Regions from separate parts of the Homo sapiens genome. Here region 2 is linked to region 1. Evidence: fine-mapped expression QTL. A gene starts in region 1. The other region holds a variant in brackets. All regions are shown on one strand. Distances are from middle to middle.

What was found. PIP is the estimated chance that this variant, and not a neighbour inherited with it, causes the effect. A credible set is the group of variants that fine-mapping cannot tell apart.
Region 2: its variant is the best candidate, but not a certain one, in a credible set for the expression of PMM1 in whole blood (INTERVAL, PIP 0.74).

What each region holds. Positions count from the first base shown.
Region 1 is chr22:41,588,114-41,591,020 of GRCh38, forward strand. PMM1 (phosphomannomutase 1) reads right to left here and starts at 1,727. Exons shown (of 8, transcript NM_002676.3): 1 at 1,606-1,727. The coding sequence starts at 1,692. RefSeq lists an enhancer at 852-1,531 and a silencer at 1,926-2,075.
Region 2 is chr22:41,612,218-41,615,124 of GRCh38, forward strand. The region is part of intron 1 of DESI1 (desumoylating isopeptidase 1); the gene reads right to left. Among named protein-coding and RNA genes, the nearest start is that of DESI1, 7.4 kb to the right of the region's middle. The variant G/T (reference allele first, on the strand shown) is at 1,445.

The DNA of each region.
Region 1 (2,907 bases):
AATCTTGGCTCACTGCAACCTCCACCTCCTGGGTTCAATCGATTCTCCTGCCTCTGCCTCCCCAGTAGCTGGGACTACAGGCACACGACACCACGCCCATCTACTTTTTGTTTTGTTTTGTTTTGAGACTGAGTCTCCCTCTGTCGCCCAGGCTGTAGTGCAATGGCACATTCTCGGCTCACTGCAACTTCTGCCTCTCGGGTTCAAGTGATTCTCCTGCCTCAGCCTCCCGACTAGCTAGGATTACAGGTGCATGCCACCACGCCTGGCTAATTTTTTGTATTTTTAGTAGAGATAGGGTTTCACGATATTGGTCAGGCTGGTCTTAAACTCCTGACATCGTGATCTGTCTGCCTCGGCCTCCCAAAGTGCTGGGATTACAGGCGTGAGCCACTGAACCCAGCCTAATTTTTGTATTTTTAGTAGAGACGGGGTTTCACCATGTTAGCCAGACTGATCTAGAATTCCTGACCTCAGGTGATCTGCCCACCATGGCCTCCCAAAGTGCTGGGATTACAGGCGTGACCCACAAGCAAATGGCCCACCTTTGCTCCAGTCCTGCTATCTTCCTCCCGGATCCACCCCTGCAGGAAGGCCTCCAGGGCCCAAGCCAGGGCAACTTCACCACAGAGGATGGGGAGGGGCATTCGGGACCTAAGAGAGGAGGCTAAGACCTGGGTTCCCATCAGCCACTGCCCAGTAAAGCCCATCCCACTGCTCCCCCACGCTAGGAGACCTGTTGGTTGGTCCTTGAGGCCCCCAGACTGGAGGGTGGGTTACCCACAGGGAGGGCATGAATGAAGCCTGCTTACTGATGCATCCAGCTGGTGAGGGGGCTTTTGGGGACTCACTCACAATGAGACCCAATGGGAGAAAAACTGAGCAGAGGTAAGAGGCTCAACACAGCGAGAGTCTTTAGAAGAAAACTAGACTCTTACCCTCACTATTCCTCAGTGTCCTCACAGCAAACAGGCTAGGCCTGGAGCCTCTCACATCCGGGTGGGTAGAGCTCATAAACGAATTTGAAAAGAAGCCCTCTCTGCTCCACGACTGGGGGTGGAAGGTAAAGTGGGTGATGGGGCTTCAGAAACTAGACCCAGTCCCAGGCCTGCAAAGGTCGGGGTGGGAAGACTCCGAGACGCCCTGTCTCCCACCAGATGATGACTGACGCTTGGCTGTGTGCTTGTGTGCCTGGAACCCCGGTTCAGAAGCCAGCTCCGACCACTGGTGTGTCGTAGGGCTGAACTAGGGTGGGATCCCCAGCTCAGGAGGCGGGGGCGTCCGTGAGCCAGGCCTTAGCGGCGTGTGACAGCCTCCGGGGAGGGAGGGAGCTAGGCCCCTGCTCGCAGCCTCCTCCCTCCAGTACTGGATCCAACCCCAGCACTCCCAAGCAGAACACAGGCAAGGACGCTGCGGGGTCAGTGACGTGAGGGCCAGGTCCCCTCACTCCCGGTGGGTGGCCCCGGATGTCAGGGGGCCGGGTACCGCCGCATCCCACACTCGGTCCCCGGGTGTCCACGGTCACGCTGCTGCAGACCCCACACTCAGCCTCGGGGGTGTCCGCGTGACACTCCCGGTGGGAGCTTCCAATCTTCAGGGTCCTACCTGGCGAGCCGGCGTGAGGGTCCCGTCCACGTCAAACAGGCAGAGGACGCGCTCCTTCCTGCGGGCTGCCTGGGCGGTGACTGCCATGGCTGCAGGTCCGCGCGCGGGGCGGAGTCCCGAAGATGCAACGGCAGAAGCAGCTCAGGGATAAGTGCTGACGGGGCGGGGCATTAGGGGGCGGGGGCCAGTGGACTGCCTGATTGGCCAAATGAAGAAGGGGCGTGGTCTAGGCGGGCGGAAGCGGGGGCGGGGCCTGAGCTGATTCTCATTGCTCGTGGAGGAGGGGAGCGCGGCATAGGGCGGAGCGGAGCCCTCCAGGTTCGATTGGATTGCTCCAAACAAGGCGGAGGAGGGGCCTGAGCCTGGGACCCGCAGGAAGTGAGAGGGTGAACCCGGAAGACAGGGGCGGGGCCAGAATTGGCGGGTTGATAGTGATTGCAACAGGCCGATTAAGGGGCTGGGTCGGGCGGGGCCTCTACCATGCAGTGCAGTGTCTAGTGGGCCAGGCGGGACTAAGAGAGCCGAGGTCGCTCCCCATCCACTCTCACAAGGTTTGTGGCCATCTCTTTGCCTTACAAATTTTGAGCTGTAGGAAATCTCCTGAGCCGGGCGCGGTGGTTCACGCCTGTAATCCCAGCAGTTTGGGACGTCGAGGCGGGCGGATCACCGGAGGTCGGGAGTTCGAGACCAGCCTGACCAACATGGAGAAACCTCGTCTCTACTAAAAATACAAAATTAGCCAGGCGTGGTGGCGCATGCCTGTAATCTCAGCTACTCAGGAGGCTGAGGCAGGAGAATCGCTTGATTCCAAAGAAGCCAGAGGTTGCGGTGAGCCGAGATCGCGCCATTGCACTCCAGCCTCAAAAAAAAAAAAAAAAAAAAAAAAGGAAAGAAAAGAAAAGAAAAGAAATCTCCTGAAGGCCTTTGTTCAGGCTTTGGACTTTGCCAAATTGCCTTCCCCGAGCCTTATTCCTTCTGTCCACACATAAGACCCAGCTCTCAGGGTCTACCTGCTTGGAGACCTTCCCAGATTCTTCTTTTTTTTTTTTTTTTTTGAGACAGAGTCTCGCTCTGCCCAGGCTGGAGTGCAGTGGCGGGATCTCTGCCCACTGCAACCTCCACCTCCCAGGTTCAAGCGGTTCTCATGCCTCAGCCTCCCGAGTAGCTGGGACTGCAGGCGTGTGCCACCATGCCCACCTAATTTTTGTATTTTTACTTACTTTTATGTTTATTTTATTTTATTTTTGACACAGGGCGATTTATTTATTTATTTATTTATTTTTTGAGACTGGGTCTCACTCT
Region 2 (2,907 bases), 24 kb after region 1:
GTTAAGGGGGTCTGGGCGTAGTGGCTCACGCCTGTAATCCGAGCGCTTTGGGAGGCAGAGGCGGGCGGATCACCTGAGGTCAGGAGTTCGAGACCAGCCTGGCCAACATGGTGAAACCCCATCTCTACTAAAAGTACAAAAATTAGCCAGGCATGGTGGCACACACCTGTAATTCTAGCTACTCGGGAGGCTGAGACAGAAGAATCACTTGAACCCGGGAGGTGTTGCAGTGAGCTGCGATTGCACCACTGCACTCCAGCCTGGGCGACAAGAACAAAACTCTTGTCTCAAAAAAAGAAAAAAAAAAAAAAGAGTAGGTTAAGGGAGTTTCAGGGATGATCAGGGTGGGCCTCTTTGAGAATGTGATATTTGAGTGAAGATTTTTTTTTTTTTTTTGAGACAGGGTCTTGCTCTGCTACTCAGGGTGGAGTGCAGTAACGCGATCAAAGCTCACTGCAGCCTTGACCTCCCAGGCTCAAGTGATCCTCCCACTTCAGCTTCCCAGTTGCTGAGACTATATGTGTACCACCCAGGCCTACTTTTTTTTTTTTTTTTTTGAGACGGCGTCTCCCTATGTTGTCAAGCCTGGACTTGAACTACTGGGCTCAAGTGATCCTCCCACCTCCAGGCGTGAGCCACCAGGCCCAGCTTTGAGCCAAGATTTAAAGGAGGCAAGGGAAAGAGGGATGCAGGGGCAATGACATGCCAGGTTTATCTGAAGGCCTGTAAGGAGGCCAGTGAAGTTAGAATGGGTGAGGAGGGGAAGTAGAAGATGACCAGAGGTAATGGAGGACCAGATCACAGAGAACACTGCAGAGGCTGAGAACACTAAGCCTGAGCTGTCCAATATGGTGACCACTGACCACATGTGGCTATTTAAGTTAAATAAATGCACAAATTCAGTCCCTCAGTTCCACTAACCACATTTTAGGTATTCAATAGCCACATGTGACTAGTGTTTACTTACTGGACAGTGCAGATCTAGAACATTTCCATCACTGCAGAAAGTTCTATTGGACGCACTGTTTAAACTATAGTTTCCTATTCTGTAAAAAAAAGCATAATAACACTGCCTGCCTCATAACATTTCCAGGATTAAAAGAGACGATACATGACACATGCGTAGCACAGGGTCTGGGACATAATACATGCCCAATAAAGGCTAACTCATTTCTTCTAGGGTTTATAATTTGAAAGTTTTATAGTTGTTCTCATAGTACCCTGGTATTGAAACTATTCACGTGTCCTTCTCCCCAGTTAGACTACAGTTGCCTCAGTAACCAGGACAGTTTCTTATGTATCTTTATAACTCCAGCACCTAGCAAAGGACCTGGTCCTGAGATGTGACATGAACATCTGTTGAGATGAGCTGTTCTGTTTAGTTAGCTTTGTTGGTTGACACACAGTGCTATTGAGGACAAAGTTCCTAACCCCAATCTGGGCT[G/T]CCTGGCTTGTTATTGCAATGACTCTGCCACCCTGGCATACTGCACTCCCAGTCTACTGCTGTCTTCTCAGATGCGCATGCTCACTGACTCAGGAGTACAGCTGGCAGGTATGGATGTATCATCAGCTCAAACCCATTCCTACTAAACAGATTTTTGAAGAGGGGCCTCAGTTATTTCACACCTGAAAAACAACTCAAAAGTTGCAGGATACAAACCCTACTTTATTCTCCTTTATATCCTTTGTATCATCACTGAATTTGCCTGTAAGCTACACGCCACACTTCCTATTCAACTGCATCAAGGTACACTTAGGATCTCATCCATTCATAGAGTGGAGATAGGGACTATAGAAAAAAGATCCCCTTATTTATTCATTCTTTCTTTTTTTTTTTAAGACGGAGTCTCGCTCTGTTGTCCAGGCTGGGGTGCAGCGGTGCAATCATGGCTCACTACAACCCCCGCCTCCCGGGTTCAAGCAATTCTCCTGCCTCAGCCTCCCGAGTAGCTGGGATTACAGGAGCTCGCCACCATGCCCGGCTAATTTTTTGTATTTTTAGTAGAGACGGGGTTTCTCCATGCTGGCCAGGCTGGTCTCAAACTCCTGACCTTGTGATCTACCCGCCTCGGTCTCCCAAAGTGCAGGGATTACAGGGGTTAACCACTGCACCCAGCCTGTTCATTCTTTCACTTATTCATTCATCCACCAAACACTTGGAGCCAACAATAACATTAAAAATGAATTGAGTGAATTTACATCCTTTCTTTTTTCCTTTTGAGACAGAGTCTCACTTTGTTTCCCAGGCTGGAGTGCAGTGGCGTGATCTCGGCTCACTGCAACCTCCGTCTCCGGGGTTCAAGTGATTCTTCTGCCTCAGCCTCCCAAGTAGCTGGGATTATAGGTGTGAGCTACTGTGCCCGGCCTACATCCTTTTTTTTTTTTGAGATGGAGTCTCACTCTATCACCCAGGCTGAAGTGCAGTGGCATGATCTCGGCTCACTGCAACCTCTGCCCTCCGAGTTCAAGCGATTCTCCTGCCTCAGCTTCCCGAGTAGCTGGGATTACAGGCATGCGCCACCGTGCCCAGTTAATTTTTGTATTTTTAGTAGAGATGGGGTTTCACTATCTTGGCCAGGCTGGTCTTAAACTCCTGACCTCAGGTGATCCACCCGCCTTGGCCTCCCAGAGTGCTGGGATTACAGGCATAAGCCACCTCACCCCACCTTGTTTTCTTCTTCTTTTTTTTTTTTTTAACAAAAAAGTTCCTTTTCACCTGTTTTCCACATGCATATCTGCAGAAGATTTCATTTCAAGGAAGAGTTTCACAGCTAAAGAGCATTTGAAAACCACTGGTCAGGCCACATGCAGTGGCTCACGCCTGTAATCCCAGCACTTTTGGAGGCTGAGGCGGGCGGATCACGAGGTCAGGAGATCAAGTCCATCCTGGCTAACATGGTGAAACCC